Linked DNA regions of Homo sapiens. The protein of the gene in region 1 purifies or fractionates together with the protein of each later gene. This does not show direct contact. Each region holds a gene or a part of one and is shown on either strand. Other genes may lie near its edges.

Region 1 (7,000 bases):
CTAGAATTTGATGTCTAGGATTTATCTGTTATCTTTTGCAGTACTGTAATTTTTTCTAGTCCAAGGACTTATCTGAATATTGAACATTTATTGAACATGATTGTACTCTATGATCTTGGAAGCAGTCTTTAATAAAATACAAAATGATTTTTTAAACCTTTGATTCATTAAGTAATTAGCATTCAATGTATCTGGAAACATCGTTTACCCTCTATAAGAATTCCAAAACACATGAACTGGAGCTTGTATTTAAAAAGGAAAATGATGGTGTTCATTTCAAGGAGTAGAAAAGACTTAAAGTGAGGGCGACACTTAGCTACTTCTGAGGATATACTATACTCAAAACCTTTAAATATAAGCTACGGTTCAGCAGCTTTTAAAATTTCATGTTTATTCATATTTTTCAAAATATATGTACATTAAAAAAGGAAGATTTACAACAGGAAAGATTGCCTTACATGCAACACAAATTCCAATGAATTCATGATGGGATCACACATGATTATGATCTAATTCAAGCCAATCTTCTCAAGTCCATTTCCCAGCCATACTTTAGGCTACAGAAGGGATCCCAGGAGACAAAAGTGGAATGAATAAGAAACAAACATCTTTTGCCTCTGGCAGTACTCAAGGGGCCAGAAGATGTACTTCAAAAACTTTAAGACAATTAAAATGTCAAGTGCCACAGGGAAGAGAAATGATAACCAGAAATTTGTATTTCTAGCTAGTACTATTTAACACAACTTCACAATACTAAAACAAATACAAATAAGAAAGGGTTAGGTAGTTGGGCTTCATTTACTTTTTTCCTTTTCTTTTTTTTTTTAATATCTCAAAAAGGAAGCCACTTGCTTGATATCAAAAGTGCTGTGGAAAGAAAGGAGGGGAAAAAAACCCACAAATAAATGTAGAATCTAGTTTATTTTACCAAACTGTATATTTTTCCACTTAACATTTCTACATTAGCAATGATGTAACTCTCCAACATTTCCTTATAAAAAAGGCAAACAAGAAGTGACAACTCATGCTCCAAATATTAAAAAATATATTTAAACATATGATCAAGAAGATTTGGGCCGTGAGTGGTAGCTCACATCTGTAACCCCAGGATTTTGGGAGGCTGAGGTGAGTGGATCACGAGGTCAGGAGATCGAGACCATCCTGGCTAACATGGTGAAACCCCAACTCTACTAAAAATACAAAAAATTAGCTGGGCGTGGTCGTGTGCGCCTGTAGGACCCAACTCAGGAGGCTGAGGTGGGAGAATCGCTTGAACCTGGGAGGCGGAGTTTGCAGTGAGCCAAGATCACACCACTGCACTCCACACTGGGCGACAGAGCGAGACTCTGTCTCAAAAATAATAATAATAATAAAAAATAAAAAAGATTTGTTTTGATTTTTGGTAACACAGGTGACACCAGAAATCACAAATCAATATATTTCTACACTTCCCCTTCAGTCAAAAACCAAGTGGGATAGGCCAGGCACAGTGGCTCACTCCTGTAATCCCAGCACTTTGGGAGGCCGAGGCAGGCGGATCACCTGAGGTCAGGAGTTCGAGACCAGCCTGACCAACACGGCGAAACCCCATCTCTACTAAAAATACAAAAAAATTGCCAGGCGTGGTGGTACACACCTGTAATCCCAGCTACTCGGGAGGCTGAAGCAGGAGAATTGCTTGAACCCAGGAGGTGGAGGTTGCAGTGAGCTGAGATTGCACCACTGCACTCCGGGGCACCTGAGCAAGACTCCGTCTCAAAACAACGACGACAACAACAACAACAACAAAAAACAAGTGATATAGAGAACTTGTGCTTGCTGTTAAGGGAATGCAATACTTTGGGCCAGTGAAAAATACCTAGAAATTGATCAATATGAAATGTAGCCCAAAGGAGTCATATATCTTCAAAATCTAATGAGATCACCCTGTTTTTGGCTTATTCCCAAAGCTGTCTCTGTGTTTACAGTTGGAGAGAAAAGGTTAGTGGAGTGGCTTTTATAAATAAGATTAATTATTACAGCTATAACTGAAGTCTCCAGGCAGGAGGCTTTACAACTCAGTCAGTGCTATATTGTGCCTCCATTTTACTTCCAGGACCTGACTGGCATACCGTTCTTGATGCTTTCTACAAATATAAAAATCTCTGCAACTGTTTAGATAAAATTGGAAGAAAAAAAAAAGGCAAAGCTGACCATAAAAACAACAGGGGGTTGGGGGAGGCAGAGAAAAAGGACAAGTATACATTACATAGTTTAGGAAAGTCCAGGATTATTGCAGAAATTAAAATGAACAAGGAAAAGGGCAGGCACCAATAAAAGCACCTAAAGCTAGCAAATGCCTAAACTGGTTTATTTAGAGTCCCTCCCCACAATGTTCATAGGGGAGGAAAATAATGTAATTTGAAAAGCATCAAAACTAAACAAATGCACACTGACCTTAGAAAATAAGATTTTGAATTTCATCATGATACCCTTTTTTCCTATAAAATTTACTTTTTCACTCTGAAAGACTTCTTCATGGTGGATTTGCCCTTGCCCGGCAATTTTACTTCCTTTCTTGCACTGGTTGCAGGCTTCTTTGAGGAGCCACCACTAGGTTTCTTGATGACTGTGGATGAGGGTCTGGTCTTCTTGGCAGGCGTTTTGGCCTTAGGAGGTGCTTTCTTAGGCAAGGGCCTAGCTTTCCCCCGCTGGGCAGCTGAGACTTTAGGTGCAGGTTTGGACCCTCTCTGCTTCACAGATGCGGCCTTCCCTGGGGACTTGGCTGGGGTTTTCTTCTGCAACCTGTGAGAACCAAAGAGCAAAGGCCGTCATTTAGTACTTAAGAGATTCGTTTTGTTGGGACAACCAGATGCTTTCTAAAGAGAAACGGCATATGAAGTGGTCACTTACGTTAAGAATAGGAATGTGACAATTTTTTACTAGAGATTTTACTAAAATTGTATAAAAATTCAACCAATTCATGAAGTCTAGACACAATTTCATGACGTTGTTCCTAGGGAAATATGTAATTATTTTTCTTTGAATAACTAAACTATGGATACACACAGGCTTGCCCTAAAAGTCTGGAGCCCTTGATTTTCAAAGGAGAAGATCAATCCAAATTTATATAAAGAACTTGAGAAGGATCCTGAGTTTCTGAAATGCTTTTTAGCTTTAGCCCCTCCTATAGCACTATTTTTCAGCTCTGAGGTATTTAGTGTCCTCCCCACAAGGGGTTTTCACATGTCCACACCTTCTCTTAGGTGGCGGCTCTTCATCCTCAGAGTCTTCTTCTGATGACTCATCTTCATCTTCATCCTCATCTCTAGAATCATCTGGCTCTTTCTTCGGAAACAGAACTCCTGGGCTATACGGGGAAAAATTAGATTAAAACACAAGTCCCATATAAAACAAGAAAAATAATGTGAACCTAGATGCTCTTACCTGGACATATCCCACTTCTTCCCACCCTTCCCAAAAATGTCAAGCTAGGTTACACGTATCAGGTTACAATTTACCGTATTTTGAACATACATATAAAGTTATGCCAAATCTATAAAAGTCCTGCACCATACCTAATTCTATACCCACTATTTAATAAAATTAATCCATAGTCATTTATTTAGTAAACAATTACTTAAACTCCTAATATGTATCTGGCACTGTATTAGCCAATGAGTACACAGCAATGAACAGTCTGCATGGAATACACACTTCAGCCTCATAATACTGGCAAAAGACCTCCAAGTCTTAAAAAAAAAGACCTCAAAGGCCTAAATCTGTTCAAAGCTTCAAAGGTATTCGGCAAGGATCTCCTAAACTCTTTTTTGTCCTTGGTGGTATGAACCTTGATTCCTTTGATTAACATATCCTTAAATGATAACATACATACATATATGTGTGTGTGTGTGTGTGTGTGTGTGTGTGTGTGTGTGTGTTTCTTGCCTTTTTCAGACACAGGGTCTTGCTATGCTGCCCAGGCTGGAATCAAACTCCTAGGCTCAAGGGATCCTCCCACCTCACCTTCCCAAGTAGTTAGGACTACAGGTGCATCCCACCACACCTGGCAGAATGTAACATTTTGTGTGTGTGTGACTTTGGGAATTAAATTTAATGTTTAATGTTCGAAAAATTTATATAATATGTATTAAGCCAAGTAACACTTATGTTTGTACAGAAATAATAATATAAGAAAGTTACACAATAGTCTTGCTAAAACAGGGTCTTAGTGGTATATGTTATGTACTTTACTGGAAATCAAAAGGCTTTAAACCCAGTGCATGAAACAATGCTTGGACCACAGGAGGTGATCAATATATTTTTTTGTTTCAAAGAATAAATAAGGTATTTGCAAGAAACAAATTTTCAGATAAGTGTTCCTGTCTCTACAGTATGGAGGTAGAGTTAAGATTCTTGAAAACAGTCAATGTTCTCCCCACTTGGTATTGGACAATTAAAACTTATGCATATAATCCCATCACTTTGGGAGGCTGAGGCGAGAGGACTGCTTGAGCCAGGAGTTCAAGGCCAGCCTAGATAATATGGTAAGACCCCCATCTCTACAAAAAACACAAAAATTAGCTGGGTGTGGTGGCGCGCACCTGTAGTCCCAGCTACGTGGGATATTGAGGTGGGAGGATCACTTGAGCCCAGGAGGCGGAGATTGCAGTGAGCCGAGATTATACCACTGCTCCAGCCTGGGCGATAGAGTGAGACCCTGTCTCAAAAAACAAAAACAAAAACTTATACATAATCCTCTAAGAATCTGTCATTATCATTTACTTGATAAAGAAGGAATGAACATCAAAATGACCATCCGAGGATCTCAAATAATCTTATGCCTGGCTAAAATCACTATTTTTATACAAAACCTTTTACTCCAAAATAATACTGCCTTAAAAGTCATCTTTATTTTCAAATACAGTTGTCCCTTGAACAACACAGGTTGGCAACGCATTAGCCCACTTTATATGTGGACTTTTTTTTTTCAACCAGACACAGATCAGAAATACAACATCCACAGGATGCGAAGCCTGCATACAAAGAGGACAGACTTTTCAGATACATGGATTCCACAGGGCTGAGTACATGCGCATTTGGGTATGCGGGCAGTTCTGTAACCAATCCCCTATATGTAACAAAGGACGACTGTATTTCCAGTTCACTAAAACAGTAATAAGGGTAAAATAAATTAAACTGAGTGTGTAACTTAGACTATAAATTTACAGTGATCTATTATAGGCTAAGTACTTACCTGGGATAATAGGGAAAACAGAGCTGGAAGGTGCCACTGAACCCTTTCCCAGAGATCTGTTCCATCCACCCATTCTTTTCGCATTTCTGCAGGGTTTTTTTCAGCAAATGCACTGAAAAAAAAAATTCAGAAATGAAAGTTATCTAGTTATTCAGATTAGATAATTCCCTCAACCACAAACAGATGCCCATCAATTTAATATCCTGTCACATACGGTAATTGACATACACTAAGTGAATCCTATGTGTTCAAAGGTATTTAATTAAACATTTACTTATTGCCCATAAGTTTGGCAAGAGTTAAATTATATACATACATACATACATATATCTATATTTTAAAATTTTGCAAAATATAGAGACAAAGTCTCACTATGTTGCCCAGGCTGGTCTCAAACTCCTGGGCTCAAGCAATACTCCCACCTTGGCTTCCCAGACTGCTGGGACTCCAGGCATGAGCCACCATACCTGGCAAGAGTTATAATGAAAAGACACATTAGAGACCATTGAGTCAAATACCTTATTTCACAGGGAAAAAAAAAAAGCCCAGAGTGGTTAAGTGACTTGAGCTCAAAGTAGTTAAGTGACTTGCTCTAAGGTAGCACATAAACAGCAGACCTAAAACTAAGTATTTAATTATTTCCATTCACTTAAACATCTATTGTGTACCTATAGGTATTGATAATCATCTAGGAGAATCTCTTATAAAGATGAACAGAACTAATTATTCATAAATCAGTAAACAGTAACAAAACAATATCATGGTTCCTGAAGTCCTTCATTCTCATCTTTCTTACAGAGACATATCCAAAATATATTTTATGGTGATTCAGTATCCAAAAAACAGCTGCAAATATCAGTGAAACTGAAAGGCTTGTTAACCAAATTCATCTTCTCTTAAAACATCTGGCATATAGAAATAGGCCGGGCGTGGCGGCTCACGCCTGTAATCCCAGCACTTTGGGAGGCCGAGGCCGGCAGATCACGAGGTAAGGAGATTGAGATCATCTTGGCTAATACGGTGAAACCCTGTCTCTACTAAAAACAAATAATACAAAAACAAAAAAATTAGCCAGGGGTGGTGGCAGGTGCCTGTAGTCCCAGCTACTCAGGGGGTGGAGGTAGGAGAATGGCGTGAACCCAGGGGAGGCGGAGCTTGCAGTGAGCCAAGATCGCACCACTGCGCCCCCCAGCCTGGGCAACACAGCGAGACTCCGTCTAAAAAAAAAAAAAGACTTCAAAATTACCTTTTAATTACAATAATATATTCTGGATTGTCTTCTTCTGTTACTTAATTTCCATATCCCTCACCCTACAACATTGTGCCTCTTCTAATAGTTCATTGAGAAGTCACCCAGTCTCACCAATCCACACGATAATGCTGATAAGGCAGGGTGTCTCATCTCAAATCACCACCTCCTAGAGTAAATATACTTTACTGAAATAAAGTATTGTCTGTTGTGGGGCTTAGGTTAATAAGAAATAATATAAGTAGTAAGTACTCTAAAATCCTGGCTTTGTTTCAAAGTAAAATTAGATGTTTTTGGTGAACATTCAAAAGTAGGAAAAAATACACTATAATTTAGAGTTGCTTTGAACCTAGAGATTTATCTAAATTACAATAAATATCAGAAAAATCTTTACAGTAAAAGCAACTTCTTATAAGCAGATGCTTTAAATTAAGAATTCAGTTTTGATTATTTGTTTTTCTTTTTGTAAATATGAAATTTGTAAAGCTGTTCCCTCTTGGTTTTCAGTCAGTAGT
Region 2 (6,881 bases), 5.1 Mb from region 1:
GTCTAGGAAAGGAAGGGAAGATGAGTAATATGAGAGAACCCTGGGAGGTAATGGGGGGGGACACTCAAGTAAGTAAACATGATATATTTATGGGTAAAAACTATAGTGATGTTTACTATTATGATTTGATGAAAGGAAATGACTCAAGTGTCTAGGGTGGATCCTGTTCCTGCCTGATGGGCAAGCAAGCAAGTGAAAGACAACCGACCACCAGACACCTTAAAATAGATACTGTGTTGTCAGGTTACAATGGAGCCAACAGAACAGACTGGAAAAACAGGAGCTGTTTATGGCTATCTAATACAGGCTTAACACCAGTTGGAGCCCAAGTTTCTATATGCTAATTTGGCTTGGGAAGGAAGTAAATGCCGAAACATTGACATAATGAACAAGAAATAATTTGGAGTTAGCCTATGTTCAATTACTAAGGTATTCCTAACTTTACCAACTGGCAGAGGGCAATGTCTGGCTGACCACACAATAAATCGTCTTTTATGATGGCTGTAACAAGAAATTTAAGTCAATTAAAGGGGGTGTCAGGTATCCCTTTGACTTAAATTTCTTGTTTCAGCCATCACAAAAAGTGCAGGAATGGAAACAACCTCAACCTCTGTCTTTTCCCAAGCCCTAACAACAAAATCAATTTACATTTTAATTTCTTATTTTCCCTACCAGCCGGTGATCATAACCAGGGTAATATAACAGCTAGAGGAAAAAACAATTGAAAAAGCCACTATCGGGCCGGGTGCGGTGGCTCACAGCACTTTGGAAGGCCGAGGCGGGCAGACCACGAGGTCAGGAGATCGAGACCATCCTGGCTAACATGGTGAAACCCCTTCTCTACTAAAAATACAAAAAATGAGTCGGGCGCGGTGGTGGGCGCCTGTAGTCCCAGCTACTCGGGAGGCTGAGGCAGGAGAATGGCACGAACCCGGGAGGTGGAGCTTGCAGTAAGCCGAGATCGCGCCACTGCACTCCAGCCTAGGCGACAGAGACTCCGTCTCGAAAAAAAAAAAAGAAAAGAAAAGAAAAGAAAAAGCCACTATCAAAAATTGAAGAGTTGTCCGGGAACGGTGGCTCACACCTGTAATCGCAGCATTTTGGGAGGCCGAGGCGGGCAGATCACTAGAGGTCAGGAGTTTGAAATCAGCCTGGTCAACATGGTGAAACCCCGTCTCTACTAAAAAAAAATTACAAAAATTAGCCAGGCGTGGTGGCGCGCGCCCGTAGTCCCAGTTACTCAGGAGGCTGAGGCAGGAGAATCGCTTGAACCCGGGAGACTGGGGTTGCAGTGAGTCGAGAACGCACCACTGCACTCCAGCATGGGCGACAGAGCAAGACTCCGTCTCAAAAACAAAAACAAAAAAAGAAAAAAAATTGAAGAGTTTATTTTCTCTATTTAAACAGTCCTTTCCTAGTTCTCCACATGAGGCATTCACTGACAGAACTGGTTCCTGAGCTTTTGTGGATTAACTTTTTAAATTCTTTCTGAACAGCTTTATGCCAAGGTTCTAAAGTTCACATTGTGTAAAGGAATCATACTTCTGAACAAAGTATTGACACGTGTTTACCATAAGACAGCAGAACAAGCTGCAGTTGGGCAATCGTTTTGTAAACTATTTCATAACTGCAGTAGAAAATCAAGATTTACTTGATGGAGACTTGGGAGACCTCTATAATTTTCTTAATGTTTAGACTATTTCCTCCAGGCTAAATTTATTAAGTCATGATCTAAGTGTTTTAGTGTAAAGTTTACAGCGTTAGTGTCACCGATTCTGTTTGATAAAGACTAGGGGCAGCCCCAAAGCATTTTGAGAATTACTTTGCTTAGTTAAAATATGAGAGGCTGAACTTCTTTCCAGCAAGCTGAGTAGGGAAATGAAACCACCAAACAGCACTGATACTAGGCCGTTTCCAAGCAAATATCCTTTTAAAGCATTGAGCTTTGAACTGACCCAAACTCTGAACTGTGACCTGAAAGAAAAAGGGCCTTCTGGCTTACTACCAGGGTAGAACCGAAACAAACAAACAGCTTGAGTTGAACCAATAGGTACTGTTTTTCAAAAGAATTTAACCAGAAACGCATGTGGTGGGTAAAGAGCATTTCCAAAGACCCCAAAATGAGGTAGTGCAAGTCTTAAACTTTTTCTTTCACCGGAAGTGCAAATCTGTGCATTTAAAGGTAAACTGCGTATATTTAAGCAGAAACCCTCTCCAGAAAAAAAAAAAAAAAAAAGCAGAGGAACATCTATCTACCACAGTGATCCAAACTGGTATTTCTGGTTTGCAGGATGTATGAATCCTAGCAAACCCAGGGCTGCTTCTGAGGTCCACAACGATATCCTACACTCGGGATTAGAAACAGGGAAGGGCCAAAGAGCCAAAGGTGGGGAGGGTTAGCGCTGCTCAACAGTCCACGCGCCCCTCACGCTGCAGTGGGTGCGTCTGCGGTCAGGTTCTCCGCTCCCTCTCCTCGTACCCCACCCCATGCTCGGAGTGTGTGAGGGCAGCTACTGATGCCAGCTCCCCAGCTCCTTTCCGGATGCGGGGGTGACCTGAGAATGGCTATCCTTGCTCCCCCCAGCCCCCAATTCTTCACCAGTAGCAAAGGGAGGGAGTGAGGCCCCGAGGCGGGGAGGGCTTAGCTCCGGGGCAGGCCCGGCTCGCTGCCCGGCGTACCTGGCTCTCGGCTGCGGGGATGCCAGACTCGAGCTCGCACAGCGCGCGGAAGTTGTGCAGCTCGAAGTCGGCGTCGACCTGGAGGGAAAAGGTCACCTCGGAGAGGTCCCTCCGCACACAGTACACGGTGAGCAGCATGGCCCGGGCCCGACCCGGCTCGGCTCGGCTCGGCCCGGCCTGGGCGCGGGGCGCAGGGGAAGAGGCGGCGGCGTGGCCTGGCTGGTGCTGCGGGAGGACGGCGCCGGCTGCTCGTTCGCTCGCTCGCTCCCTCCCTCACACACGCTCAGTGAGTCACTCCCTCCCGCCCTCACTAGCAAGCACGGCCGCCGCCACACGCCTGCGAGTCCGTCTGCCTGCCGGCCTGCCTCCCACGGCTGCCGCCAAGCGCGCCGGCCGCCCGGCGCCCCGCCCCGCCGCAACGCGGCTGCCGTAAAGCCCGCCTCGCCTTCCCCGCCTTCGCAACGCAGCGGGGGGCGGGGCCGGGAAGAGGAGGAGGAAGCCAGGAGAGGATAGGAGGGGGAGGAGTGGGAAGGGGGCGTGGAAGAGGAGAGGGAGGAAGGGCAAGAAAAGGGGAGGGAAGGAAAGGAACGCGGAGAAGGAAATCTCTGCTGACTGGTTGACTTAATGACAGAAGTCTGTGGAGGAGTCCCCGGTCTTATTTATTCACCGAACAGGCATTGATTAAGCGCCTACCATGTGTCGGGCGCTGGCGATGCAGAAATGAATAAAAGGATAAATCCTTCTCCGTAACTCTCAATCTAGTACAGGAGTTAGTAATAAAACATATTTTTCGAGGTAGAAATTGAGGCTCCGACAGAGTAATTCACTTCCTGTCTTAGTGATTTAGGATTGAAACCAAAATCATTACCCTCCCTAGTCTACAGAAGCCAGTTGGCTGTGGCCCACGCCTACCTCCCCAGCCCCTTCTTCCGAGCTCTTCCCACATTCTCTGCCCTCCCAGCCACATAGGTCAGTTCCTCCAAGGCTCCATTCCCCTGTCTTGTAAATAATTTTCTCTCTACTTGGACTGTGTCTGTTTCCTAGCCCTAGCAACTCCTACCACCTAGCGCAGTGCCTTTTTGGGCACAGCTTAGAATCTACTCAATAAATATTTGCTACTTTAATGGCCTGTTTTTAAGGCACACAGCTGATGAGTGGTAGAGGCCCAGAACTAAGGTGCGGATGAGTAAGAAAACCAAAACTGAAAGATGAACTTGTAATGGATGCCAGATTAGCATCTTTCCATTTACTCCCACTCCCCCTCCATGGTAGGGAGCCCTTTTCCATTTTAACAGGAGAGAAGGAGCAAATAAGATGGCTGTGGGTGCAGGTAAGTAGGTAGTAAGTAGGCTGTTGGTGGCAGGAAAGGGAGAATTAGCAGCTGAAGGCTTTTACAAAGAGAAATTAGAGGAGCTGGGCGCGGTGGCTCACGCCTGTAATCCCAGCACTTTGGGAGGCCAAGGCGGGCGGATCACAAGGTCAGGAGTTCGAGACCAGCTTGGCCAATATGGTGAAACCCCGTCTCTACTAAAAATACAAAAATTAGCCGGGCATGGTGGCGGACACCTATAGTCCCAGCTACTCGGGAGGCTGAGGCAGGAGGGTCACTTGAACGCGGGAGGCGGAGGTTGTAGTGAGCCGAGATCAGGTCACTGCACTCTAGCCTGGGAGACAGAGCGAGACTCTGTCTCAAAAAAAAAAAAAAAAAAGAGAAAGTAGAGGCACAGGGGAGTGAGAATGCTTATATCCCCTAGGAGCAACAGAAAGCTTGACTATCAGTGGCTTAAACAAACAAGGGTTTGTTTTCTCACAGGAGAGAAGGCCTGGAGGTAGCAACAGCACTGGTTGAGTGGCTCACTGAAATCAGGGCCAATACTTTTGTAATTGTCTTGACCTTTTCCTGAGGGTTGCAATATATGGCTGGCTGCCTCCACTGCACGCATCATTTTCCTATTCAAGGAAAAAGCTTGCCCAGAAGTCCCTGTGCACATTTTTGCTTACATCTCACTGGACAGAATTGTGTCACATAGATGCAAGAGAGGCTAGGAACGCAAGTATTTAGCTTTGCCTAAAGGACATAAATAGGGAAAAGGGGGGCTGGGAATGGGTATTAGGAAAGATGTACACAGTGCCTTCTACAGTGAATGTTTGAAATAACCATTGCAAATTGAAGCAAGTTTAGCTGAGAAATGTTCTAGGATTGCCCAGTGGTGGTATCAAGGAATCAGTTGAGGCTTGAATCATTGATTAATTGTTATATTTGGTCTAGTGGTGCTCAGGTTCCCAGGTCTGGCAGATTTTGTTCTCCAAAGATGACCATGACAGTGCCTCCCATCGTCTATGCTCTTCCTACAACATGATTGGATAACCCTCCCATTAAGAAGTGGGGTGAATGTCCCTCCCTTTGAATCATGGCTCGGCAGACTAACTCTGGCATAAGTGACATTATGTGATTTCCTTTTTTTTTTTTTTTTTTATCAAGACAGGGTCTGGCTCTGTCACCCAGGCTGGAGTGCAGTGGCACGATCATGGCTCACTGCAGCCTCAACCTCCAGGGCTCAAGTGATCCCTCCAGCTCAACCTCCCCAGCAGCTGGAACTACAGGTGTGCACCACCACACGCAGCTAATTTCTTTTTAGTAGAGATGAGATCTTGCTATGTTGCCCAGGCTTGATTTCCTTTTTATTATGATTTTACATTATTTTTAGTTAAAAAAAATAGGGATGAGTCCTTGCTATGTTGACCAGGCTAATCTCCAAATCCTGGCCTCAAGTGATCCTCCCACCTTGGCCTCACGAAGTACTGGGATTACAGATGTGAGCCATCGCACCCAGCCACTTTGTGTGATTTTTAAGGCTAGGTCTCGCCTGTGTCCACCTGGAGCCAGCAGTTCTCACCCAGCATCCAGCAATATATGCCAGACACCAATGGAGGGGACAAAGCAATGGTGGACAGGCTCAGGCTGGGGCTGCTGCTTCTGGCACTGCTCCTACTTATGCAGATTTATTCAAATCAAACTATTGTAACGTTTTCAAGTAACTCCTCCCAGGGTACCTTGTCTGCCCCAAACCCAGCTAATGCCACCACCAAGGCAGTTGGCTGTGCCCTGCAGTCAACTGCCAGTCTCCTCATGGTCTTGCTTTCTCTTCTATATTTCTACTGTTAAGAAACATCTATACTTCCGTGTCTTCTAAACCCATTCCAAATGGCATCTAGGAGTCCAATGTGGCAAGAAAAAAAGCGGGTCTTCATCAAATCTATTAATTTCACACCTTCTTTTACTGATACAGAAAAGGTTGAGAACCTGGCCAGGTGTGGTGGCTCATGCCTGTAATCCCAACACATTGAGAGGTCGAGGCAGGTGGATCACCTGAGGTCAGGAGTTTGAGACCAGCCTGGCCAACATGGTGAAACCCCGTCTCTACTAAAAGTACAGAAAAATTACCCAGATATGGTGGTGGATGCCTGTAATCCCAGCTACTTGGGAGGCTGAGGCAGGAGAATTGGTTGAACCTGGGAGGCAGAGGTTGCAGTGAGCCGAGATTGCGCCATTGCACTCCAGCCTGGGCAACAAGAGCAAAACTCTGTCTCAAAAAAAAAAAAAAAAAAAAAAAAGGCCAGGCGCGGTAGCTCACATCTGTAATCCCAGCACTTTGGGAGGCCGAGGCAGGTGGCAGGTGGATCACAAGGTCAGGAGTTCAAGACCAGCCTGACCAACATGGTGAAACCCCGTCTCTACTAAAAATATAAAAATTAGCCAGACGTGGTGGTGTGTGCCTGTAATCCCAGCTACTCAGGAGGCTGAGGCAGGAGAATGGCTTGAACATGGGAGGCAGAGGGTGCAGTGAGCCGAGATCGCGCCATTGCACTCCAGCCTGGGCGACAGAGTGAGACTCCATCTCAAAAAAAAAAAAAAAGGAAAGAAAGAAAGAAAAGGTTGAGAACCCCAAATTTAATTGCTTTGAAGAACACGTGAAGGGTTTGACTAGATGATGGATGCCAATATTAAATCTGCTTAAATGTCATGTACAAGATGAAGAGAGGCAACATCCAAAATTGAAGACATTATTTCTTGAATGTGGCTTAAGAAATGTGGACAGTTAAAACTACCTTGAAAATAAGAATAGTAGATCCTGAGACAAAACTTGGGTAATAAAAAAAAAATAATAATAAATAATAGATTTTATCTTGTTTAGAAATAA

Evidence for each region.
Region 2: the proteins of HP1BP3 (region 1) and DDI2 purify together in Homo sapiens (affinity purification with mass spectrometry; 2 studies listed by BioGRID and IntAct, with this or other methods). This does not show direct contact.

What each region holds. Positions count from the first base shown.
Region 1 is NC_000001.11:20,742,308-20,749,307, forward strand, and holds part of HP1BP3 (heterochromatin protein 1-binding protein 3), read right to left. Parts: intron 5,349-7,000; coding exon 5,237-5,348; intron 3,350-5,236; coding exon 3,236-3,349; intron 2,785-3,235; coding exon 2,490-2,784; 3' UTR 1-2,489. UniProt on the Homo sapiens protein: Component of heterochromatin that maintains heterochromatin integrity during G1/S progression and regulates the duration of G1 phase to critically influence cell proliferative capacity.
Region 2 is NC_000001.11:15,613,607-15,620,487, reverse strand, and holds the start of DDI2 (protein DDI1 homolog 2), read right to left. Parts: upstream 3,031-6,881; 5' UTR 2,818-3,030; coding exon 2,680-2,817; intron 1-2,679. UniProt on the Homo sapiens protein: Aspartic protease that mediates the cleavage of NFE2L1/NRF1 at 'Leu-104', thereby promoting release of NFE2L1/NRF1 from the endoplasmic reticulum membrane.